4 linked regions of the Homo sapiens genome follow. The protein of the gene in region 1 interacts with the protein of each later gene in a pairwise test. Each region holds a gene or a part of one and is shown in the gene's direction. Other genes may lie near its edges.

Region 1 (7,034 bases):
CATTCATAGTCAAAGCCACTTTATCCTCTGGGATCCAGAGTGTCCTCTGCAGGGATGCTTTTGTAGGTGGCCCCTGTTCTCTCGCCTTCCCCCAACACATAGACACCCCTGGACGTGGGACCTGCTTTGCTAGAGTCTAGCTGCACCCTCTCTAACTTCTCTCCTCCTCCCTCCTCCATTGATAAAAACAGATTTACCTCTCAGTCTTGTCTGCCATTCAGTGATAGTATCACTCACATTGGTAAGACTCGGTAAGTGTTAGAATTAAATTAGTCATCACGGTAACCCTGTGCATTAGGGAAGTCAAGATGCTTTCAACCTTACTCTATACATAAAGATTCTAGCTCTGGAATCTGCCACAAGTTTTGAGTAATGAAGTATAAACTAAGAAGGTCCCTTGAATTGTGTAGAATAGAACAGCACTGTGAGCTGCGGGTGTCCTGGTGACTGCTCTGAGCTTGTAACTCAGGCTGATCTTAAAGGCACAAAGAGAAATAGGTCGGCCTCAGTGCCTCAGTGTATTAACCTTGTAACAAGTGCCAGGCAGGAATGTGTTCAAGAGCTGCAGGGTTGCACTGCCCTTAAATGGGGCTGGTGGAATGGTCTCTTCAACAGTACATATCAAGGAACAAAAGGGAAAGAGAGCCTATAGGTTAAGATATTTAAGAGACATAGCAACCATATACAACATGTAGACTTTGTTTGAAGCCTAATTTGAATGGACTGACCAGAAAGTAATTAAACAAATATATATGTGTGTATATAAATGTGCATATATAAGTACATATATGTTTCTATAAAAGAATAAGAGTTAATCGTTTAGGTATGACAATGTGACAATGACATTATGGTTATGTTTTTTTTTTTTTTTCGAGACAAAGTGTTGCTCTGTTGCCCAGGCTGGAGTGCAGTGGCTCAATCACTGCTCATTGCAGCCTCAACTAACTTCCCCAGGCTCAGGTGATCCTCCCATCTCGGCCTCTGGGACTAAAGGCGTGTGCTATCATGCCCAGATAATTTTTATTATTTTTTTGTAGAGATGGGGTCTTACTATGTTGCCCAGGCTGGTCTCAAACTCCTGGGCTCAAGCGATCTGTCCACTTCAGCTTCCCAGAGTGTTGGGATTATAGGCGTGAGCCACTGCACCTGGCACAATTATGCTTTTTTTTTTTTTTTTGAGATGGAGTTTTGCTGTTGTTGCCCAGGCTGGAGTGCAGTGGTGCAATCTTGGCTCACTGCAACCTGCGCCTCCCAGGTTCAAGTGATTCTCCTGCCTCAGCCTCCCAAGTAGCTGGGATTACAGGCAGGCACCACCACGCCTGGCTAATTTTGTATTTTTAGTACAGACGGGATTTCACCATGTTGGCCAGGCTGGTTTTGAACCCCTGACCTCAGGTGATCCACCTGCCTCAGCTTCCCAAAGTGCTGGGATTATAGGCGTGAGCCACTTTGCCTGGTCACAATTATGCTTTTTAAAAATATGTCATCTTCTAAAGATTACGGTTAGATGTTTTTGAGTCAAAGGATGAATTAGTATTAAAATAATCTACTATGGCGAGCGGTGATATAAATGAAAACAAAATTAGTTACGAGTTGGTCAAAGCTTGGTGTTTGGCACATGAGGGTTTATTACACTATTATTTTCACTTTGGTATGTTTACATTTTTCTGTAATAAAAAGGTTTTTAAAAATTCTCTTGGCGGCCGGGCATGGTGGCTCATGCCTGTAATCCCAGCACTTTGGGAGGCCGAGGCAGGTGGATCACAAGATCAAGAGATCAAGACTGTCCTGGCCAAGATGGTGAAACCCCACCTCTACTAAAAATACAAAAATTAGCTGGGCGTGGTGGTGTGTGCCTGTAGTCCCAGCTACTTGGGAGGCTGAGGCAGGAGAATCACTTGAACCCGGGAGGTGGAGGTTGCAGTGAGCCGAGATCACACCCCTGCACTCCAGCCTGGGTGACAGAGCAAGACTCCATCTCAAAAAAAAAAAAAGAAAAGAAAAGAAAATTCTCTTGACCAGGCACAGTGGCTCACGCATGTAATCCTAGCACTTTGGGAGGCCAAGAGGGGCTGATCACCTGAGGTCAGGAGTTCTAGACCAGCCTGGCCAACATGATGAAACCCTGTTTCTACTAAAAATACAAAAATTAGCCAGGCGTGGTAGTGGGCACCTGTAATCCCAGCTACTTGGGAGGCTGAGGCAGGAGAATCGCTTGAACCTGGGAGGCAGAGGTTGCAGTGAGCCAAGATCGTGCCACTGCACTACAGACTGGGCAATACAGCAAGATTCTGTCTCAAAAAAAGAAAATTCCTCTTGAAGTAGCCAAAGAATTCTTGGCTAAAAATAAATAAATAAATAAATATCCTCTTGAAGGAACTAGGGAGGGAAGTAACTGAAGAGACATTGTGTTTGCTGTGTTTGACAGAGTCTGCAGAAGGCTACAGATGTGAAAGATGTGGGAAGGTATTTACCTACAAATATTACAGAGATAAGCACCTCAAGTACACCCCCTGTGTGGACAAGGGCGATAGGAAATTTCCCTGTTCTCTCTGCAAACGATCCTTTGAGAAGCGGGACCGGCTTCGGATCCACATTCTTCATGTTCATGAGAAGCACCGGCCTCACAAGGTGAGTATTAGGAGGACACATGACCCACCATCACGTTCTCTCTCCCTTCCCAAGCTCCTGAACACGGGGAGTTGCCTTGTAGGTGCTAGCTGCAGGGCTGTGATGCCTGACGGACACCCTCTCTGAAGGAGGAGAGGATAGTATTACGGAACAGGCAGGCGTGAATAGGCACAGCGATGCACATGTGTTAGGATGCAGGTACCCACAGAGGGAGGAACATGGAGGAAGGAGTGTCCACGGCCACCTGGACACGTGGATTATGAAAGATGCACAGAGGTGGCCTTGAGCCAAGTATAGAAGGACAAATGGGGTGTCTGATTTATACTGGTGGCAGGGTTAGTTGGGCAGGAAAGAGTCGAGCTGTTCCAGACAGGAGAGAGCCTGGCATGTGCTCCTGGGGAACTGCGCCTTGTTCCAAATCTGTGCAGGTGTGTTGACAGGTATAGGTAAGAAGGAAGTGAAGGCACGGTCCTTCCAAGGAGCGGAAGGCCTCTACAGTGGGCCGAGGATTTTGTAAGACAGAAAATCAGTAATGACATTACGGAGCCATTCCAAATACCTGGATGCTCTGCTAGGCTTGCTGCAAAAAAGTACAATATTCCCTTGGGCTTAATTAAAAGGAGGACGAGGCTTGGGCACAGATGTATTCTTGCTTGACTGTTGGCCTTGTCGGAACTACCTCAGGCAGCTACGACCTTGAGCCCATTTTCCTGTTTTGAAAACTGAGAATAAAATCATCATAAAATTGTCCTAATTTCTCCCTTCCTTCCTAAGCTTCTGGAAAAGTCATGTTTAATCACTATATTATATACTCCTATAAAATTTGAATACATTTACAGTTATCATGCATTTGTGTAATTCTAAAAGGATTTAAAAATATCAGGACGGTGAAGGTATTTCTCGCTTATTAGACTGGCAAAAGTGAAAACTATCCAGTATTCTGATAGTGAAAAGTTTGAGACTGCATGTTCATCAACACAAAATTGATTATATAAATTATGGCTTACTGGCCAGGCGCAGTGGCTCACGCCTGTAATCTCAGCACCTTGGGAGGCTGAGGTGGGCAGATCACCTGAGGCCAGGAGTTCGAGACCAGCCTGGCCAACATGGCGAAACCCCATCTCTACTAAAAATATAAAAACATTAGCCGGGTGTGGTGGCAGGCACCTGTAGCCCCAGTTACTCTAGAGGTTGAGGCAGGAGAATTGCTTCAACCCCAGAGGCGGAGGTTGCAGTGAGCCGAGACTGTGTCATTGCACTGCAGCCTGGGTGGCAGGAGTGAGACTCCATCCCAAAAAAAAAAAAAAAATATTGTCTTATCAAGCAAAAACCAAATTACAGAAGATGTATAGAATGCTTGCTCTCTTTGAAATTGGAGGCCGGGAGTGGTGGCTCACGCCTAATCCCAGTACTTTGGGAGGCCGAGACAGGTGGATCACGAGGTCAGGAGATCAAGACCATCGTGGCTAACATGGTGAAACCCCATCTCTACTAAAAATACAAAAAATTAGCCAGGCGTGGTGGTGGGCACCTGTAGTCCCACCTACTCGGGAGGCTGAGGCAGGAGAATGGCGTGAACCTGGGAGGCGGAGCTTGCAGTGAGCCGAGATCGCGCCACCGCACTCCAGCCTGGGTGACAGAGCGAGACTCCGTCTCAAAAAAAAAAAAAAAGAAAAGAAACTGGAGGGCTGTCAACCAGGAGGTCAGTAGATGACAGGACTGATGAGGAAGCTGGTGATAGTGAGATGATGGCTTACCCTTCAACAGACGAGGTGCTCTTACAGTACAGTGGAGGAACAATCTTTTTTTTTTTTTTTTTTTTTGAGACAGTCTCACTCTGTTGCCCAGGCTAGAGTACAATGGCATGATCTCAGCTCACTGCAACCTCCACCTCCTACGCTCAAACAATCACCCAACCTCAGCCTCCCAAGTAGCTGAGCTGAGGCTATAAGTGCATGCCACCATGCTCAGCTAATTTTTTGTATTTTTTGTAGAGATGGGCATGTGGTGCGCACCTGTGGTCCCAGCCACTCGGGAGGCTGAGACACCAGAATTGCTTAAACCCAGGAGGCAGAGGTTGCGGTGGGCCGAGATCATGCTACTGCACTCCAGCCTGGGCAACAGAGCGAGGCTCTGCCTCAAAAATAAATAAAAATAAATAAATAAACAAATACAAAGATTTGCTCTCTCCTCTGCCCCATAAGCATGCCTGGAAAGAGGTTGTGAAAGCACAGAAACCTTTCTCAGAGAAAAATTGTTTTTTCTCTTTAGTTAGTGTAATTTCCTTAAAAGTGATGTCAAAACCAAAGGCCTTCTGCTTTATCCCTGGCAAACTCTCGGTGCTTGCACCTCTCTGGTAGTTTACTTCACCTGGTGTAGAATTCCTGAGACAGTTTCGAGAGGAGTTGCCAGGGTCAAGAAACAATATTAATTATTCACAGCGTGTGAACAAAATATTAACCTCTTCATGCAAGTTCAACACGTCTCAGATAATCTGCTACTGTGCATTACCATGTTGGCTTACATGTTCATCGTCACCCCTCCTTGATTTCTAGCTCCTGGTTTCTAGCAGTGTGGAGCACACAGTAGGTACTCTGTAAGTCGTAGATAATTGTTGAGTTAATTGCACAGTACTTGTAGTTTACTCATAGCTCTGTGAGGAAGGCAGAGCAGGTATTTTGCCCATGAGCAAGATCGGGAAACTAAGATTCCAGATTTAACCAATGTTCTGTAGTCACACAGCTACCTGTTGAGAGAGCAGGACTAATTCAGGCCTCTGCCATATACCACAAACCTGTTCAGTTCCCACATTCCACATCTGAAGCAAGAGTTCTCTCAGGTCGGGTGCCGTGGCTCAAGGCTATAATCCTAGCACTTTGGGAGGCCAAGGCAGGAGGATCTGTTGGAGTTCAAGACAAGGCTGGGCAACATAGTGAGACCTCATCTCTACAAAAAAAAATTTTTTAAGTTAGCTGGCTTAGTGGCACGCACCTGTAGTCCCAGTTACTCAGGAGGCTGAGGTGGGAGGATCGCTTGAGCCTGGGAGTTCCAGGCTGCAGTGAACCGTGATTGTGCCACTGCAGTCCAGTCTGGGTAACAAATTGAGATCCCGTCTCAAAAAAAAAAAAAAGAAAAAAATTGGAAAAGAGTTCTTCTCTAACCCCAGGTAAACGCAAGGTTGAAATGGACTTGTTAGAGGAAGGTGTGATTTCAACTATATTTTTCTTTTTCACCTTAGTGTTCTACATGTGGGAAATGTTTCTCTCAATCTTCCAGCCTAAACAAACACATGCGAGTCCACTCTGGAGACAGACCATACCAGTGTGTGTATTGTACTAAGGTAAATGGAACCTCTTACTAAGGGATGTGTCCTGAGCTCTGCTTGAGTGTCTATGGATAAGAACTTGAAACAAAGCCTGGCTTAATGAGTTCTTGGTAAATGTTAGTCAAATATCAGCCCAGTCCTCATTTCCACCCCTAAATATGCTCAAGTTTGCTAAAGATGGTCAAATATAACCAACCTCCTATTGCCAAGCTGGCATTTAGAGTACATGTAATAAAATACATTCCAAATTTATGGGGACCTGATGACCTATTACATAGTATTTAAAAGCACTAGCTGAGTGTGGTGGCTCACACCTATAATCAAATTTTCCATGCATCGGTGGCTTATGCCTGTAGTCCCAGCTACTTGGGAGGCTGAGGCTGGAGAATTGCTTGAGTCCAGGAAGTGGAGGTTGCAGTGAGCCAAGATTGCACCACTGCACACTCCAGCCTGGGTGACAGAGTGAGACACTGTCTCAAAAAAAAAAGGAGGGGGTGGGGAGGCGTGGTGGCTCAAGCCCGTAATCCCAGCACTTTGGGAGGCTGAGGTGGGCAGGTGCCTGGAGATAGGGAGTTCGAGACCATCCTGGCCAGCATGGTGAAACCCCATCTCTACTAAAAATACAAAAATTAGCTGGGCATGGTGGCACGTTCCTGTAATCCCAGCTACTTGGGAGGCTGAGGCAGGAGAATCACTTGAACCCAGAGGCAGAGGTTGCAGTGAGTCAAGATTGTGCCACTGCACTCCAGCCTGAGTGGCAAAGTGAAACTCCGTCTCCAAAAAAAAAAAAAAAAAAAAATCACTATTTCATAGTATTTAAGAACACAAACATGGCCAAGTTTCAAATCCTGCCTCTGGTGCTTACCTAGCTGTGCCACCCTGAGCAAGTCCATGAACTCCTGTTAGTTTCCACATTGATAAACTGGGGAGAATAGTCTTTACCAAGTTGTTGGATAACATCAGTAAAGTATATAAAACTCTTGTAACAGTGCCTGGCATAACATAAAAGTACTACTGGAATGTTAACTGCTATTATTACTACTTTAATCTGTGAAGGATGCTACTGATGTAATTTTCT
Region 2 (6,143 bases), on another chromosome or scaffold:
ATATTTTCCCATTTTTCCATTGTATTATCTTTCCTTTTCTTACTTATTTTTAAGAGTTCTTTATATAATACATTATGGACATGAGTCATTTGTTAGATATATTTGTTGCAAATATCTTCTCCCAGTTTGCAGGTTGCTTTCTCATTCTTTTAATGGTGTTGTATGATAAACAATTTTTTTTTCTTTTTTGAGACAGAGTCTCGCTCTGTCGCCCAGGCTGGGGTTCAGTGGCACAAGCTCGGCTCATTGCAACCTCCACTTTCTGGGTTCAAGCGATTATCCTGCCTCAGCCTTCCGGGTAGCTGGGATTACAGGCATCCGCCATCATGCCTGTCTAATTTTTTTGTATTTTTGTAGACAGGGTTTCACCATGTTGGCCAGGCTGGTGTTGAACTCTTGACCTCAGGTGATCTGCCCGCCTCGGCCTCCCAAAATGCTGGGATTACAGGCATGAGACACTGCGCCAGGCCTAGAAGTTTTTTGTTTGTTTGTTTGTTTTAATATGAATAAAGTGCAATCCATAATCTTTTTCCTTCATGCTTAGTGCTTTTTGTGTCCTGTTTAAGAAAACTGCTTACTCCAGAGTCATGAAGGTGATCCCCTGAGTTTTTTTACATTAGGATTACATTTTTACCTTTCCCATTTGGGTCTGCAATCCACTGAGGTTTTTTTTTTTTTTTTTTTTTTTTCGTTTTTGTTTTTAATGTATTATGTAAGGTGGAATCAATATACATCTTTTCCCCATATGGATATCCAACTAATCTTTTCAAAACCACTTTTGAAAAGAAAAATGCTTTCCCCCACTTCATTGAACTGTCATCTTTATCATAAATTAGGTGACTGTATAGGTAGGTATGTTTCACAGGTCCATATAAGATAGACACACACACACAAACACAGACACATTTTAATCTTTGAGACAATATCATACTCATAAAATTGTATTAAATTTTGATATCTAATAGTGGACGTTTTGGAGCTTTCTCCATCTAAAAGGCTGTCTTAGCTATATTTGACTCTTTGTATTTTCTTTTTCTTTTTATTTTAAACAGAGTCTCACTCTGTCGCCCAGGCTGGAGTGCAGTGGCGCAATCTCCGCTCACTGCAACCTCTGCTGCCCGGGTTCAAGCGATTCTCCTGCCTCAGCCTGCCAAATAACTGGGATTATAGAAGCCTGCCATCGCGCCCAGCTAATTTTTGTATTTTTAGTAGAGCCAGGTTTCACCGTGTTAGCCAGGATGGTCTGGATCTCCTGACCTCGTGATCCGCCCACCTCACTCTCCCAAAGTGCTGGGATTACAGGCGTGAGCCACCGCACCAGGCCCGGCTCTTTGTATTTTCATACACATATTTGGAGTCTGCTTATCAACAAAAAGTGACCTGTTGAGATTTTCATATGGATTGCACTGAATTTACAGATGAATTTGGGTATAATTGACATCCTTAAAATATTGAGTGTTTTCATCTATGATCATGGTAATCCCTATACTTAGTTATTCTTTAATGTTCTTGAAACTATTTTATAATTTTCAGTGTAGAGGTCTTGAAAGTATTTAATTAGATTTATTTCTATATATTTGATTTTTAGCAAAACTTATTGGGCTGTATTTTACCTACAATAAGATACACACCTTTTAACTGTATAGTTCAATGATTTCAACAAATGTATTTGTCAATGGAGTCACTACCCCATTAAGATACAGAATGTTTTCCTCAGCTGAGAGAGTTCCATTATGCCTCTTTGCAATCACAAAAACCTCAACTTTCAAGCCAGGCAAAAACTGATTTGATTCAACTTATATCAGTACAGATTAGTTTTGCCTGTTTTAGAACTTATATAAATGCAATCATGCAGAAAACACTCAATTGTGGCTGGTATCTTTATAGATACAAATTTTTTTCATTTTTTTGAGATTCATCCATGTTATTGTTTGTATCAGTAGCTTGTCACTTTTTTATTGCTTAGCAGCGTTAAAATGTATGAATACATCACAATTTGTTTATCACTTCACTTGTTGGACATTTAGTTTTTATCAACTTTGGGACTATCATAAAGGAAATTTCTATGAACATTCCTATGCAAATATTTTTGAGAAAATATGTTTTAAATTCTGTTGGGAAAATTCCGAAAAGTGGAATTTCTAGGACATATGGTAAGTCTAACTTTTCAAGAAACTGCCACCAAGTCTCAGAGTGGTTGAACTTCTCACCAACAATCAGTGAGAGTTTCTGCTGTTTAGTATTTTCAAAAGTGCTTGGGACTGTCAGACTTTAAGTTCAGCAATTATAATGGGTGTGCAGTGATTTTTCATCCTGGCTTTATTTTACATTTCCCTGATAGTTAATGAGGTTGAACATCTTTTCATGAGCTCATTGGTAATTTGTGTGTGTAGTTTTGTGAAATGTTTATTCAGATCTTTTGATCATTTTTACTGCATTATTTGCCTTCTTATTTTATGTTTTCGAAGTTCTTTATATATGCTCTGAATTCAAAACCATTGTCAGATACAAATACTGTGAATATTTACTCCCAGCTTCTCACTTCATTTTCTTAACCATGTGTTTTAAATGGTAGAAGTTTTTAATTTGGATAAATCCAATTTCTTATTTTTTTCTTTTGTGATCTGTTCTTTTTGTGTCCTAAGGAATTGTTTTCTCAAAGATTGTAAAGTTTTTCTGTATGTTTTATTCTAGAAGTTTTCTAATTTGAGCTTTTACATTTAGGCCTAGGATCCATTTTGAATTAATTTGTGTATAGTATAAATAAAAGGCAAGGCTCCTTTTTTTCCTTTAAGAATTCTGTTATTTCAGCACCATTAGTTTAAAAGACTATACTTTCCATATAGAATTACTTTGATATCTTTGTCAAAAACTAATTAACAACATACGTATGGGTCTATTTCTGGAGTCTATTCTGTTCTATTGATCTACAGGTCTATGTTTACTACTACACTAACTTTATTATTACACCTTAAGTCTTGAAATAATATAATGTAACTCTCAAGATTTGTAGGATATTTTAAAAAAATTATTTGTCTATTCTAGGTCCTTTGCATTTTCAAATAAATTTATGAGTACGTTTGTAATATTTATCTTGTAGCTGCAACCTTCTTAAAATCAATTCTTACTCCTATAGTAGGTTTACCGTAGATGTCTCTGGATTTCCTAAATACATGATTACTTGATCTTTAAATAAAGACATACTTATCGTTTGAACCAGAAATTTGTGAAAAAGGCCTTTTTTTTCCTTTTAGTTATGAAAACCCAACAAGGTTCTGTAGCACTACAACTCACTAGCTCATTTCATAGAAGGGCCTCATGTGTCCAGGGGCCCCTCAAAAGGGGAGCCATCAGCTGCCCTGTCCTTTTCCAAGTTCTAAAAAAGCAGCTGCGTGTAGAGTCTATATTTATATAATGACTTAACAGGACAGGTGGTTGGGACATTTTGCCCAACTTTAATCCCGTCTTTCAAGTAAAAATAACTTTTTTTCCTTTTTAAAGAAGTATATTAATTTTTTGTGTTTTACAAAAGAAATAATACAGAAAAGGTATTAAGAATGAGAAAAGCCTACTCTCTTGTGCTCCTTTCCTGATACACCTCTTCCACTCATTTTAGTGGAGAGAAAACGGAGAATATTGGTAGGAGGACAGAAGGAGGTAGACAGGCAGAAGGAGGTGAATCCTGGGAGCCAAGGGCAGAGAGAGGCAAGTCCCCAGAGAAGTGGGAATGGCCAACAGCTCCCTGAGAAGATACCTTCCGTCCTTCCTGGGCAAGCAGGGGAAGTCTCAAGAATATACAGAGAAGGAAGAGTGGCAGAGCCCAGGCTGGGGATGTTAAAAGGGACTCCCGGTGAGGATGGGGGCGGGCCCGAAAGCACCACCTGACTCCGGGCTGCAGGAGGGGGCGTGGGACGGGGGCGGAGCCTCTGGCGATGACAACAGCCACACGTGATCGGCCAACACTGAGTCTTACCTCGTTGTGGCGTCAGAACCGCCGTCGCTCGCTCCCTTCTCGGCAGTGGTACCTGTTCCCGGTGTCCCTGAGGACGTGCGGGCCAGGTACGGCCCCGAAAGTAGGAAGCGGAGGGGGAGCAGGTAAGGGACCCGGAGGGGGTCCCTGGGGTTGGTGTGGGGGAGCAGCCCCGGCCTGCGGATGCCCCATCCCCGGGCAGCAGCGCGGAGACGCAGCCGGTCCACGATGCAGCCCCGGGGCCCCGCCGCGGGACCGCGAGCCTTGTGTGAGCGGAGGGGTGCCCGGCCCCGCGGGAGCCGGCGATCCTGAGGCTACGACCTTTCGGAAGCACCTGCCTCCGTCACCAGCGCAAGCTTTTCCAACACCCCTGCTCCGCCCTTCTTGATGCAGAAAATGGTGGTCAGCTTGGGGGGCTGGGCGGCTGAGGCGGGGGGCGAGAGCGGCTAGGAGGGCCCGGGCCCGGCGTGGGGAAGGGGCCGGGTGGCGGCGGGTCCTCTCTAGCGTTCCGCTGCAGCAGCCCCCACTCTTCCCACCCCGGCCGTCTGCAGGTTTGCGGGGCCAAGTGTTGCGGCGACGCACCTCACGTCGAGAATCGGGAGGAGGAGACTGCAAGGATAGGCCCAGGTCAGTGCGAGGGACGGTGGTGGGGAGGGGGTCAGAACATGAGGAAAGCCCAGTCTGAGACCCCAATCCGTGCCTTCACCCCCACACTTAGCAATCCCCCACCCCCACCCCTTCTTCGTCCTCCATTTTGGTGCCTGCAGAGGCCTGGAGATGGATCTGCAGAGAAGATGGTGGGCTTTGCGGGAGAGAAGGGCACAGACTGGCTCCCCTCGCCCCCCCGAGGGTACATGGGGCCTCTCTGGTGGAAAAAAAATGAAATTTAAAAAAGGCCTTTGAAATCCAGGGCTCTGAATTTTGAAAGGTGGGTAGTCGGGCCTCTGTCCTCGGTGCTGATCAGTTCACCAAGAATTGAGTCCATTTTCTCTCTGTCTCCTAGGAGTAATGGAGTCCAAAGAGGAACGAGCGTTAAACAATCTCATCGTGGAAAATGTCAACCAGGAAAATGATGAAAAAGATGAAAAGGAGCAAGTTGCTAATAAAGGGGAGCCCTTGGCCCTACCTTTGAATGTTAGTGAATACTGTGTGCCTAGAGGAAACCGTAGGCGGTTCCGCGTTAGGCAGCCCATCCTGCAGTATAGATGGGACATAATGCATAGGCTTGGAGAGCCACAGGCAAGGATGAGAGAGGAGAATATGGAAAGGATTGGGGAGGAGGTGAGACAGCTGATGGAAAAGCTGAGGGAAAAGCAGTTGAGTCATAGTTTGCGGGCAGTCAGCACTGATCCCCCTCACCATGACCATCACGATGAGTTTTGCCTTATGCCCTGAATCCTGATGGTTTCCCTGAAGTTAATAGGGAGACCCCTGCTTCCTAAACTTACACATTTGTGGTGTACCTTTGTCGTAAACGTTTTGATGTTACCTATTTCTTGTGGGTCTCCTATTACCAGCTTCTAAATGAATGTTGTTTTTGACCCAGTTTGTAAGTTTCTGTCAGCAGGAGAGTTTTACCTATTGCATGGAAAGATGCTCATTATATATTGTGAAGTTAATAAAACAGTTTTAAAAAGCATTCTCTGCATTCTTTTTTACTTTAAATCTTAAACATGCACCTAAACAGTCATATATATATATATATATATATATATATATATATATATATATACACACACACACATATATATAGTAAATAGTGTTTATCTCTGTGGTAGAATTAAGAGGGAGTTTATTCTTGCTTACCCATAATTTCTTATTTTTCAAAATGGAACACGTATTACTGATAAAAAGCAATGTGACCACCTTATAAAAGCGATGTGAGCACTTACTAAACACTTGTGACAGAATCTCAATTTTAGCTTGCCTCTGGGTTCTCTTTTTAGAAATGTAAGAGACACATCTCTTTGAAGATAATAATATTTATCAGTAAGATGAAGACAATCACCTCCCAGGCTTGTTGTATGGACCAGATAAGGTAATGAGGTTGTGAGCTTTCTCCCAAGTTCTTGTTCTTACTGACATGCATGACCCAACACTTTAGATATTCCCTTCTGTTATTAGAGGAAATTTCCAAGGTGAGGTCTTCCCTATATTCACAAGTCCAGTGGAC
Region 3 (7,034 bases), on another chromosome or scaffold:
TTCTAAGAAGAGGTAGGGTCTGGGAAACATTGGCTTAAATGGTAGAGAACCTTTGTGCTCTTTGAGAATAAATGAACAAAATTGCATTAGCACAGGGAAATGAGGTTGGAGACTGAAAAATAACAATATTCACCAAAACCCTAATGGTGGAGAAGTGATACATTAGTAAAGACTGAAATTGGTAGCTGGGTTATGTTAAAACACATTTCCTATCTCTGATTACAAATTGTATCTCAACTGCTGGCAACTCTTTGAATTTATTGTGCCGAAACTTGCTTAATCATACAATACATACGCTCTTCTTTTTGTAGGCGGCACTCCCCCTATCGCACACTGGAGCCAGTGCGTCCTCCAGTGGTACCAAATGATTACGTACCTAGCCCAACCCGTAATATGGCTCCCTCGCAGCAGAGCCCTGTGAGGACAGCTTCTGTGAATCAAAGAAATCGAACTTACAGGTATTTTCTCTACCTCAGTGCAAAATGTGATGGTCATAGTACCATAATCTGTTCAGATTACTTCAGGTAAATCTCTCATTTTCCAAGCACTAAGTTCTTTTCCTCACTCTATTCTCCCAAACCTCATCTGATTTCACCTCTCTCTCCTCATGTTCTGATTCAACTTTGAGCAGTCAGGAAGTTGATAAAGAACAGACATCTCAAAGTGCAGACTTCTCTCCAAGTTTTAAGAGTTCAGTTGATCTGGAAAAAAAATTATGGACCAAATGTGGGAAATGTCAGGTTGTTTTTTGGTGGAACTTTACAGATGAAAAACTATACATAATAAAACATTAATATGGGATAGTACATCAGAGTATGATTATTAATTAAAATTACTCAAATCTGTTTAGGAAAATGTTTTTGTTTTATTATAAAAGAAGTTTCTTCAGATAGGCATTAAACTGGAATATAAAAAGGCAATATTTATTGTTTTAATGTGTTAAACCTCAACATTTATCACTTGTATTTATGGATAATTTTTTCAAAATGTGGTCAAAACAAGCTTATTGAACTCAGTTTTCCCCTCAACTTTATTAATAAGTAAATATATATATATATATACACACACACACACACACACACACACACACACACACATTTTTTTTTAACCTGTCACTGACTTGGAGCTCAAGGAAATTTTATTTTGAAGTGGTACGCTTTTGAATTACCTTTATTGTAGCTACATTCATCTCAGAAAATGTCGGGAAGTGCTGATGATCTCTTACTGTTTATAAATACTCATGTTTTGGTGGCTCTTATTTCTTTAGCAGCAGTGGGAGTAGTGGAGGGAGCCACCCAAGTAGTCGGAGCAGCAGTCGAGAGAACAGTGGAAGTGGTAGTGTGGGGGTTCCTATTGCTGTTCCTACTCCATCTCCTCCCAGTGTCTTTCCAGGTAAAACATTCATGGTGCCTCGTCTTCACTTTTCCTTTCTGAATTTGATTCAATTTGTGATTTAATTATGGTGGGCTTTCTTCGTAATCAGGATTTTTTTTCTTTAGGAATCATAAATATTGGGAAGTCTATATATTTGTTATTTGTAAGCAAGTGATTTGTAAGTGTTTGCTCACTTTGCACTTCTCTTTATGCCTTTGGTGATGTGGCTCAGTTGCTGCTTTGAGGTTTCAGATCACACTTTGTTATGAGTACAAGTTTAATTCCAGCTAGTGTTATGACAGTGCAGTCTTTGGACACAGTGGGAACTCAGTGTGAGAACCATATTAGTAACAAAGGATTGGGCAGATATAAAAAGTAGTTTTGACAGTTAAATTTAGTGGCTGTATTGGAATTTAGTAGTCTCTGAAAATACTACCCTCTTTTCTCTGAAACAGAAAAATCTGCTTATTTGATTCGAGGAGATACACACTTAAAACTTAGTTTTGAAAACGTGACACAAAATACATTAATAGAATGTTACATACTTAATTTACTTATAGTAACAAGTAGATAATGCCTTTTAAAAATCATAAAGATTTGTGTTTTAAAAAAAATTTTTAATCTGATAATATGGAATATGTCTATTTTCTGATTTGTGTAATTCAAAATGGAAAACTGTTGTTTTTTAGTGTATTATGTTAGTTTTGTATACTATATACAGAATGTTATGCTAAAAATAACAATACGAAGGGAACACTTTTCTTCTGGAGTAGTGCTTTCAATTGAAAAGGAATGTTTGTTTTTAATGAATTGAAAAAATCTGCACATTACCCTGAGCATCTTGAATTATTTGCTGCTTATATAGTAATCCTTTAGCATAAGTTTTATTCTTTTTTTCAACTCTGTTCTTTTGGTTAGTGTTAAGCACTGAATATCTAACATTAAATACTCTAATACCTTTTCTAATCCTGCCTCATGTGATTGCCTCATTAATGCTGCCTCTTACTCCTCTTTCCCCTCAGCCCCTGCTGGCTCTGCTGGCACTCCTCCCCTTCCTGCTACTTCTGCATCTGCCCCTGCTCCTCTTGTTCCTGCTACTGTCCCTTCCTCCACTGCCCCAGACGCTGCTGCTGGGGGTGCCCAGACCCTTGCTGATGGCTTCACTTCTCCAACTCCCCCTGTTGTTTCTTCCACTCCCCCTACAGGTAAGTATTTGCTTATTCATTGGCAGGCAGATGCAGTCATCTGGCTATTCTCTTACTTGCACCTCTGATTTTTGTTTGTTTTTGGTTTTGTTGTACTTCGTATTAAAAAAAAATAAGAATAATGTACTAACCAGAAAGTATGTGACCAAAGATTAGCATTTCCTGAGAAAATTGAGGTAAAGTTTCTCATACATTTTTCCAATAGGGTAGCATAAATTTGTGTTTTTTTATTGCTTGAATTTCATTTATTAGAGATTTTTAAGTTTAATATGGAGCTACCTTCTATACAGTTTTTGGAAATTATCATTAGAAATATTTTCATTATAGGTTAAGTGATTAACAAAAGTCTATTACAATAATTCTAAGGTATATTTTATAGGAAATATTTGATACAACAAATGGAAAGCCTCTGTAAGTCTATTTTTAACAGAATCTGTTGCTTATTATAGCAGCATTGGAAACTCATAGACAATGGACTTTTAAAGAATTTCAGGTTTATTTAAGTTGGCTGGTGTTTTAAAATTGCAATCTAAAATCTGTTTTGATTGGGGAGGAGATAGACTCAATTGCTACGAAATATATTTGTAGAGTTAATGATGCTGGCTAGTAACAGGTTCTTGTCTGCTATAAAATGTATGTGTTTGGACATATATCACTGTATTAGTCTGTTCTCACATTGCTATAAATACCTGAGACTGGGTAATTTATGCAGAAAAGAGGTTTAATTGGCTAACGGTTCTTCAGGCTGTACAGGAAGCATGATAGTGGCATCTGCTTGGCTTCTGGGGAGGCCTCAGGAAACTTACACTCATGGCCTAAGGCAGAGGGGAAGCACACTGGTCACGTGGCCAGAGTAGGAGCAAGAGGACAAGGCGGGAGGTGCTACACACTTTTAAACAACCAGATCTCATTATTGCAAGAACAGCTCCAAGGGGGATGGTGTTAAACCATGAGAAACCGCCCTTGTGATCCAGTCACCTCCCCCTAGGCCCCACCTCCAACATTGGGGATTACAATTCAACATGAGATTTGGGCAGGGACACAGATTCAAAGCATATCAATCACCGTAGTGTTCCACTTGCCAGTGAAGAACTTCATGGCATTTATATTCAGCTTTGCTGTTATACATGTTAAACATATATAAGATCTTTACATGTTTTAAAAGACACTTTTAGCCAAAATGGATTTTGGGTGATGTCTTGTGGGATTCCTTCTATATGACTTTTAAAGAAAAGCTTTCTGCAGTAGATAAATGTAAACATGGGGTGTTTTTTGATCCAGATACAACTGTTAGGCCAAACTAACTAGTTAAATATAGGAATCTCGTTATGCTCCTGCTTTGATAAAGAATGCATCAGAAAGGACAAATCACCCCCAACTGAGAGTCTATGTTTTAGTAATTAAATATTAATTGAATAACAGGTGCCTGGCTCAGTGTTCACTAAATAAACATTTGTTATGTGAGGGGATAATTAACTGTGGTTTTTAAAACAAAAAGCAAGGTAAATGTCTTATTAATAATTTATATCAGGATAGTCTGTTTTATACAGTACCTGAGTTACCAAGCAATTGTTTTTCTTTTTACCAAGGTATAACTTATGTACAGTAAAATTCACCCTTTATACCATATATGTTTGTGAGTTTTGGCAAAGGTGTACTGACATGTAATTGCCACCACAATCAAGTTACAGAACAGTCCTATCATCGCAAAAATTTCCTCCATGCCCCCTTTATAGTCAGTCCTTCCCTTCCACTCCCAGCTCCTGGTAAGCCCTTGATGTGTTTTTTTTCTCTAAAGTTGTGCCTTTTTAAGTATAACATAAATGAAAGCATATAGTATGTAGCTTTTTTGATCTGTTTTTTTTGGCCAGATGCATTTGAGAATTACCCATGTTGTTGCATGTTTAAGTATTTCATTACATTTTATTGCTTAGTAGTGTTGTATTGTATGGGGATGTACCACAATTTGTTTATCCCTTTCTCAGAGGACATTTAGATTTTTCTAGTTTTGAGTGCTTATGAATAAAGTTGCTATAAACATGTACATACAGGGTTTTTTTTGTGCACATGGGTTTTTATATCAGGTAAATACCTAGGGAATAGAATTGCTGGGTTATATTGTAAGTAAATTTTTAACGTCATAAGAAACTGCCAAGTTGTTTTCCAAAATGGCTGTATAATTTTACACTCCCAGCAGCAATGTGTGAGTTTCCAGTTGCATCCTTGTCAGCCCTTGGTGTTGCCTTTTTTAGCTTTAGCCATTCCAATACATGTGTAATGGTTTCTCATTACATGTGTGGTTTGGATTTGCATTTTCTTAATGACTAATGATATTGAACATTTTTTTCATGTGCTTATTTGCCATGTGTATATCCTCTTTGGTGAAGTATCTGTTCAAATGTTTTGTTCCTTCTCACCTTTTTAATAGGGTTTTTTTCCTTATCATTGAGTTCTTTTATATTCTAAATATATGTCCTTTATAGATTATGAGTTACAAATATTTTCTTCCATTTTGTGATTCGTTTGCTTATTTTCTATTTTTTTGGCGGGGGGAGGAGGGGCGGGCGGACAGAGTTTCACTCTTGGTGTCCAGGCTGGAGTGCAATGGCAGGATCTCAGCTCACTGCAATCTCCGCCTCGCGGGTTCAAGCGATTCTCCTGCCCAGCCTCCCAAATAGCTGGGATTACAGGCACCCACCACCATGCCCAGCTAATTTTTGTATTTTTAGTAGAGACGGGGTTTCACCACGTTGGCCAGGTTGGTCTTGAACTCCTGACCTCAGGTGATCCGCCCGCCTCAGCCTCCCAAAGTGCTGGGATTACAGGCGTGAGCCACTGGGTCCAGCCTGTTCATTTATTTTTTTGATGTTGTATTTCAAATAGCAGAAATTCTTCATTTTTATTAAGTGTTATTTTTCAAAATTTTTTTAAATGAATCGTGCTTTGATGGCATATCTAAGAACTCTTTACCTGAAGTCATAAAGATTTTGTTCTGTGTTTTCTTCTAGAAGTTTTTAGTTTCAGGTTTTATCGCTAGGTTTATGATAATTAGGTATATATATTTTTAAAACCCCAAATGGTAAATCGACTCATTAATAGTGTGAATAGTGTCTTTTTTTTTTTTTTTTTTTTTTTTTTTTGAGACAGAGTCTCACTCTGTCACCCAGGCTGGAATACAGTGGCAATCTCGGCCCACTGCAATCTCCGCTGCCTGGATTCAAGTGATTCTCCTGCCGTAGCCTCCTGAGGAGCTGGGATTACAAGTGTGAGCCACCACACCCAGCTAATTTTTTGTATTTTTAATGGAGACAAAGTTTCACCGTGTTGGTCAGGCTGGTCTTGAACTCCTGATCTGAAATGATCCACCCGCCTCCACCTCCCATAGTACTGTGATTAAAGGCCTGAGCCACCATGCCCAGCCCATGTGAGGTTTTAGACTAGATCTAACTATATAAAATTCATAATGATGTTAATCCAGATGTTTTTAACTTGATCGTAGGTTTGTATTAGTTTGCTATAGATTAATTACTGAAATGCTAATTGTATTCAGTGGTTCAAATAACTAAATATGCCTTTTAAATCATAGTTTATATGTTTTCATTTTTATCATGGTTACAGAGGCTTCTCAGTTGATAGTGGATTATGTTTAAGCTTGAGTGCTTAAGTTTTTGATACACATGTAAGATGTTTAAATGTTATAACAAGCCTTGAGTGCTCTTATAATCCTTATATGACTCCATATGAATCTAAGCTTGGTAAACTTTCAGCTCCTGTAGAACAATTTTAGTCATATAAAACCATTTTATAATCATAGACAAGATGAAAAATTGTCAAAGTGTTGTTTTCCTCTAATACTTTTAATTAAAATTACCAAGAAGATAGTCTCATATTAAGGTAGAATAAAGATGGTAAGACTCAGCTGAGAAATATGAAGCCTGGAAGAGGATATGACTGCAGTGTTTGATCATGAAGATTTCAACAAATCAAGCATTCATCAAATTCCATATTACATAAGTCTTATCTCACTGTGTTTCAAGTAGTTTATTTTAGAATTTAAAAAATTTCAGGATAACCTTAGGCACAAATGGATAGATGAGTGTGCCAGGTATCATCTGTTCCTCCAGTCCCCCCTCCTCTACTCTCCCCTCTTCTCCAGTAGGCTGACCTCCATGAAATGTTTCAGTGGATTCTTTTGCCCTCTGGCTTCCTGTTGGGTTTAGCAAAAGTGTTTTTTTTTTCCTTTTCACTTATCTCCTCCTTTTCTCCCTTTCTCTTTCTCCTTTCCTTTCCCCTCTGCTATCCTCTTGCCCTCCTCCACCTTCATCTCCTCCTCCTCTACCTTCCTGTCCCCTTTCCGCTTTCTTCTCCACCTGCTTATTTCTCCGCCTCCTCTTCTCTCTTGCCCTCCCCTTCTCCCTTGTCTGCTATTGTGCTCTCTCATGGGTGCTGTGGTGC
Region 4 (5,612 bases), on another chromosome or scaffold:
GGCTGAGGCGGGTGGATCATGAGGTCAGGAGTTCGAGAGGAGCCTGGCCAACATAGTGAAACCCTGTCTCTACTACAAATACAAAAATTAGCTGGGTGTGGTGGCACACACCTGTAGTCCCAGCTATTCGGGAGGCTGACGCGGGAGAATCACTTGAACCCAGGAGGCAGAGTTTCCAGTGAGCCGAGACCATGCCACTGCACTCCAGCCTGGGTGACAGAGTGAGACTCTGTCTCAAAAAAAAAAAAAAAGTTGAGCTTTGAGCTTTCCAGCTGTGCCTATGTACGCTTTATTCCCAAGAAGGACTAGTTGTTTCTCTTGCTTAAAAAAATCTCTTCATTCTCTATATTACTATGACACTGTGTGGCATATATTTTTCTTTTTTTATTGTGGTAAAGTATATATAACATAAAGTTTACAATTTTAACCATTTTTAGGGGCACAATTCAGTGGCATTTATTCAAAATGTTGTGCAACCATCACCACCATCCATCTTCAGAACCTTTTCATCATTCCAGACGGAAACTCCATACCCATGAAACAATAACTCCCCATTCCCTTTTCCTCCAGCCCCTGACAACCACCACACTACTTTCTCTCTGAATTTCCCTATTCTTGGTATCGAATATAAGTAGAGTCATACAGTATTTGTCCTTTTGTGTCTGGCTTATTTCACTTAGCCTAATGTTCTCAAGGTTCATCCATGTTATAGCATGTATTGGAATTCCATTCCTTTTTAAGGCTGAATAATATCCCACTGTGTGTGTGTGTGTGTGTGTGTGTGTGTGTGTGTGTGTGTGTGTACACCACGTTTTATACATTCATGCACTGATGGACATTTGGGTTGCTTTCACCTTTTGGCTATTGTGAATGCTGCTGCCATGAACATTGGTATACAATGTGTGTCATATTTGAGGCTTAGCAAATGCTGCCAGGCCCTGTTTGCTTCTTCTCCTGCATGTGTGTCTTATTTCCCCAGCTAGAAGATAAGGTCCATAAGCTAGGTGTGGGTCTTACACTTCTTGGTGTTTTTCATCCTTTATTCTGTTTCTCCCAGTATCGTGCAGAAATATAAATACTTGGTGCTGATAATTACGCTAAAATTAAAAAATAAGGAAACTGTTTAGAAGTACATAGTATTTTAAAGAAGTACTTTATGTCCATATTTACATGGGGAGAGTATTTGACTTGTTTTTCCAATTTCTAAAAGTGATAGTATATTAATATGCTATCACTTTTCAAGTGTTTAATAATTTTCAAATGTTTAATAATAGAGTAACAGCCAAGAAGTATGTATGGGTCATGAGTCAGGAACATTTAAATAGATCTAGCTGATTATAAAGTAAATCTATAGAAGCCTTTTTGTTGCTGTTTTTCTCTTTTGAATCAAGGACATGAGTTCAAATACCACATTAACTCAAGAGGTAAAAGCTGTGTCCCCCATCCTAAGAAGTTGTAGGAGAGAATATGTCAAATTTCTCTTACAAAAATAGAGTCATTCTACAGTAGAGTCTTTCTATAGAGTCATTATATAAAGTGAAGATGGCTTCATATGTATGTGACGCAAATGAACCTCTCATTGGAAACCTTATATTTTATATTAAAAAAGAAGCAGTTTAATTAAAATGCAAATTTGGGATAAGTATGAATTCCTATCAGATGTATGTTGACACTTGCACTGAGGTAATTGAAGAGTGTTTTAAAGTGTATTTACTTATGTTTGCCACATATTTATTGCTTTGTTAAAGGCCAAAGTTTTGGTTTTTGGTTACATCTGAGATACATCCTGTATTAGAAGAATGTTTCTAAGTAGGCCTTTAAGGCTTTTAAAATAAATAACAAGTGTAGGAGAAGATGGTTTCTAGAAGGTGCTTTGATGAAATTTCACAAAGTTTTGTTTTTTGGTTACACTTAAGATACACCTGTATTAGAAGAATGTTCATAAGTAGGCCCTTAAGGCTTTTAAAATGACAAGTGTAGGAGAAGATTGTTTCTAGAGGGTGCTTTGATGAAATTTCACCGGCTGGCTATCTGTATATAATCAGGTGTGCCCACAGAGAAGGCAACAATGAAGCTATTCAGGCAGGGCAGCAGAAAACACAGGCAAAGCAATTGTTTACAACTCAACAACTGGGTCATTAGGAATTTTCATCTTTCGATCAGCTACCCTGGCTTTGAGTAGCCACAGCCAGCGCGTGTTTCAAAAAAGGACAAAACTCTATTTGCAAATAGCTTGCTACTAAAAAATATGTTTCTTTATTATAAAGTCCTGTTGGAATTTACTACTGCAAAGCAAACCACTCTGACTTACTCTTTTCTGTGTGCTTAGCCCTGCAATATTACCAGCTGTTAAGTAAAAATGTTCTTAGGTCAAGATGTTAAATTTGCAACTGGTTTACTTTATCGCAAGTCTCTGCTTTATTTGGGAAGCCTTTTTTTCCCTCCTTCTTCTTTTCATATAATATAAAAAGGTATCTTCAAATTTCACTGGCTTTAAAAAAAGGTATCTTCAAGTCCTTTCCATGAACTGTACCAGCAAAACAGTTCATGCACAGGTATCTGCCTCGTGCCACCCGTGGCGGTGGAGTGTGATGCGTTGTTTCATTGATGGATAATAATGCCCCCGTGCAATTTAACAAACCCTTTCTAGCCACTTCCTTTTTTCCTCTCCAGCAACTTATCCTGCCATCCGGAATTCATAGCTGGTTTCGTTTGCTTTCTAGTACAAGTTATTGGCAACCAAGTTTGCCAATGCCTCAAGTGGCTTCTTATGAAAGATTTCAATGGATAGAGGTATCTTTCACTTCAGCAATTGAATTAGCTAGCTATTGTATATGGTAACCTGATGCAACTTACTGATTGGTTCATAAGACATATTTAACACAAAATCAGCCTATGGGAAAATAGATTTCAGATATTAAAATTCCCTGTGGGTATCTGGATGGTACTATCCCTAGATAACAGCTGGGGACCTTATTTGCAGAAGAGGAGCCGGAAGACAAGCTGAGCTGATTTTCCTGTTTCTCCCTGAGCTTTGCTCTTCCAGGAGTCCCCCACCCCTCCTCCCAAAGAGGCTCTCTATTGAGATTGTTACTGCTATGAAAGCCATATGTTACAGGTTCATGTAGCCATTCTATGTTGAAGGCAAGCTTCCTTGCACAAAGCATTCCAGGAAGCCACTCTGATTTCTAGATCTTTATTTACAGGGTTTTTGTTTCATTTGCCAGTGATATAGTTCGAATTTTTTTAAAAAGGCTTGTAGTATATTATGACCCATTGAGATGCATTTGCTCTTCCAAAAAGCACGTGTACAGGTCTCTTCTGAGCACATCTGCTCCTCTTTATGCACACCAGGAAAAGATTAACTCAGCTGTTCTGTTTTCCAGATTTGACTGAAGAACGACTTGGAGACGGCAAGTCGGCAGACAATACAGAGGTCTTCAGTGACAAAGACACTGACCAGAGGAGTTCCCCAGATGTGGCAAAGAGTAAGGGCTGCTTCACCCCTGAGAGCCCTGAGATAGTGTCCGTGGAGGAAGGGGGATACGCTGTCCAGAAAAACGGAGGCAACCCCGAGAGCCGCCCTGACAGCCCCAAGTGTCACGCGGAGCAGAATCACCTCCTGATTGAGGGCCCCTCGGGGACTGTTTCTCTGCCCTTCAGCTTGAAAGCCAACAGACCGCCGCTTGAAGTGTTAAAAAAGATATTCCCCAACCAGAAGCCAACGGTGCTTGAGCTCATCCTCAAGGGCTGTGGCGGGGACCTGGTGAGCGCCGTGGAAGTCCTTCTGTCCAGCCGATCCTCAGTCACGGGAGCAGAGCGAACTTCCGCAGAACCTGAGAGTCTAGCGTTGCCCTCCAATGGGCACATCTTTGAACACACCTTGAGCTCCTACCCCATCTCGTCTTCCAAATGGTCTGTGGGATCAGCCTTTCGAGTCCCAGACACGTTGAGGTTTTCTGCCGACTCTAGCAACGTTGTCCCCAGTCCCTTGGCTGGGCCTCTGCAGCCCCCTTTCCCCCAGCCACCCCGGTACCCGCTGATGCTGAGGAATACTTTGGCGAGAAGCCAGTCGAGCCCCTTTTTGCCCAATGATGTCACCCTGTGGAACACCATGACGCTGCAGCAGCAGTATCAGCTGAGGTCCCAGTATGTCAGTCCTTTCCCCAGTAACTCTACCAGCGTCTTCAGAAGCTCGCCCGTCCTTCCTGCCCGCGCCACGGAAGACCCTCGGATTTCCATCCCTGATGATGGGTGTCCATTTGTGTCAAAGCAGTCCATTTACACCGAGGACGACTATGACGAGAGGTCTGACTCCTCAGACTCTAGAACACTCAACACATCATCTTAAAGTGGTGCTGGATGGGTGGTGGCCAGGTGACATTTTCTGTGCGTTTTGACCCTGAGGCATCTGAGGAGAGGCCACATCTTGTGTATGCCCTTTCCTTCTGTTTGACAAAGTGACTGTGCTTGATTCTATACATTAGCAATAAAAACATAACTTATTTAACTTCTTGCACTTCACTGGAAAATGCCAAATAGCTCTGTTCTGTGGCTTTAGTGCTGAATGTTTATTGTAAAAGAGAGTCTAATGTTAAGAATAGTCTTGGGAAGGCTGGGTCCGTGGAAGATTTATTTGGGGATGTAAAGCTGAAGGTCAGCCTTGCACCTAAACCCAACCTGGAATGTTAAATGAAATAATATACTTGAATGCAATTTTGTAAAAGTGGATTCCTCAGGATATGTGAAACCTAAAGGAAGTGGTTCTGTTGCAAATGGACTATAAACAGGGACATTATATTCTTACACTAAAAATCCTTGCATTTTAAAGAGAGATGCACTTAAGAATAGAGTGAACTGCTCATATGCTTATTTAAGCTTGGACAGTTTTCAGAGACAAACCCCATTAAGAATTACTCTTTTCACATGGCTGAATCGAAACATGTGTAATGTCAATGTAAAACCAATCACAGCTGTGAACTGCATGAAATGTATTGTGAAACGAACACAAGATTAAGCTTTGTCAGGTTAATGTAGCATGTTAAGGACTCTAGAAAAAAATAAACTAAGGAGACGAGCGTGGTTTATGTCATTTCTACTTGTGGAAAGAGGATCTCTAAAAATAGAAACTTGATGTAAAAATGACTTTTACTAACGCATGGGCCAGGAATCAAATTATCAGTTAAATGAGACATTCCTGAGAAATATGAATGGCAAAGTTTTAGGGTTGCATTCAGAAAGATAATTTGTTCAAAATGGAGTTAATTCTCTCCATCCATTCACTTATTCAACAGATACTTACTGAGTGCCTACTATGTGTAAGAGAATGTGCTTTCCATGTATTGTCCAAGTTACCTACCCGTGAGTCCTAGATAAGCAGATATTTTAGTGGAGAATCCCATTGAAAACAAAGTAAAAATGGAAAACTCCCAACAATGTATAGTTGAGTGTGGGAAGCAAGGAAAGTGCTTAGCCCAGTACCTGACATAGGAAGTATGCAGTCCATGAAAACTACTGCTTCTATTAATGAAATTCAGTAGCCTTGCATTCAGAATATAGACGTGCATTCCTTCATTCTTACTTGGAGACCATGCCATTCTGGTTTGAGGCAA

What was found.
Region 2: the proteins of PRDM14 (region 1) and BEX2 interact in binary tests that used the Homo sapiens proteins (3 or more experiments, as listed by UniProt).
Region 3: the proteins of PRDM14 (region 1) and ABI2 interact in binary tests that used the Homo sapiens proteins (3 or more experiments, as listed by UniProt).
Region 4: the proteins of PRDM14 (region 1) and DMRT3 interact in binary tests that used the Homo sapiens proteins (3 or more experiments, as listed by UniProt).

Annotation. Positions count from the first base shown.
Region 1 is NC_000008.11:70,054,237-70,061,270, reverse strand, and holds part of PRDM14 (PR domain zinc finger protein 14), read left to right. Parts: intron 1-2,428; coding exon 2,429-2,631; intron 2,632-5,869; coding exon 5,870-5,971; intron 5,972-7,034. UniProt on the Homo sapiens protein: Transcription factor that has both positive and negative roles on transcription. Required for the maintenance of embryonic stem cell identity and the reacquisition of pluripotency in somatic cells.
Region 2 is NC_000023.11:103,308,812-103,314,954, reverse strand, and holds BEX2 (protein BEX2), read left to right. Parts: upstream 1-3,964; 5' UTR 3,965-4,095; exon of another isoform or gene 4,096-4,357; coding exon of another isoform or gene 4,358-4,372; intron 4,373-4,521; coding exon of another isoform or gene 4,522-4,597; intron 4,598-4,973; coding exon of another isoform or gene 4,974-4,978; coding exon 4,979-5,365; 3' UTR 5,366-5,609; downstream 5,610-6,143. UniProt on the Homo sapiens protein: Regulator of mitochondrial apoptosis and G1 cell cycle in breast cancer.
Region 3 is NC_000002.12:203,394,389-203,401,422, forward strand, and holds part of ABI2 (abl interactor 2), read left to right. Parts: intron 1-311; coding exon 312-458; intron 459-1,267; coding exon 1,268-1,392; intron 1,393-2,396; coding exon 2,397-2,579; intron 2,580-7,034. UniProt on the Homo sapiens protein: Regulator of actin cytoskeleton dynamics underlying cell motility and adhesion. Functions as a component of the WAVE complex, which activates actin nucleating machinery Arp2/3 to drive lamellipodia formation.
Region 4 is NC_000009.12:986,655-992,266, forward strand, and holds the end of DMRT3 (doublesex- and mab-3-related transcription factor 3), read left to right. Parts: intron 1-3,386; coding exon 3,387-4,351; 3' UTR 4,352-5,078; downstream 5,079-5,612. UniProt on the Homo sapiens protein: Probable transcription factor that plays a role in configuring the spinal circuits controlling stride in vertebrates.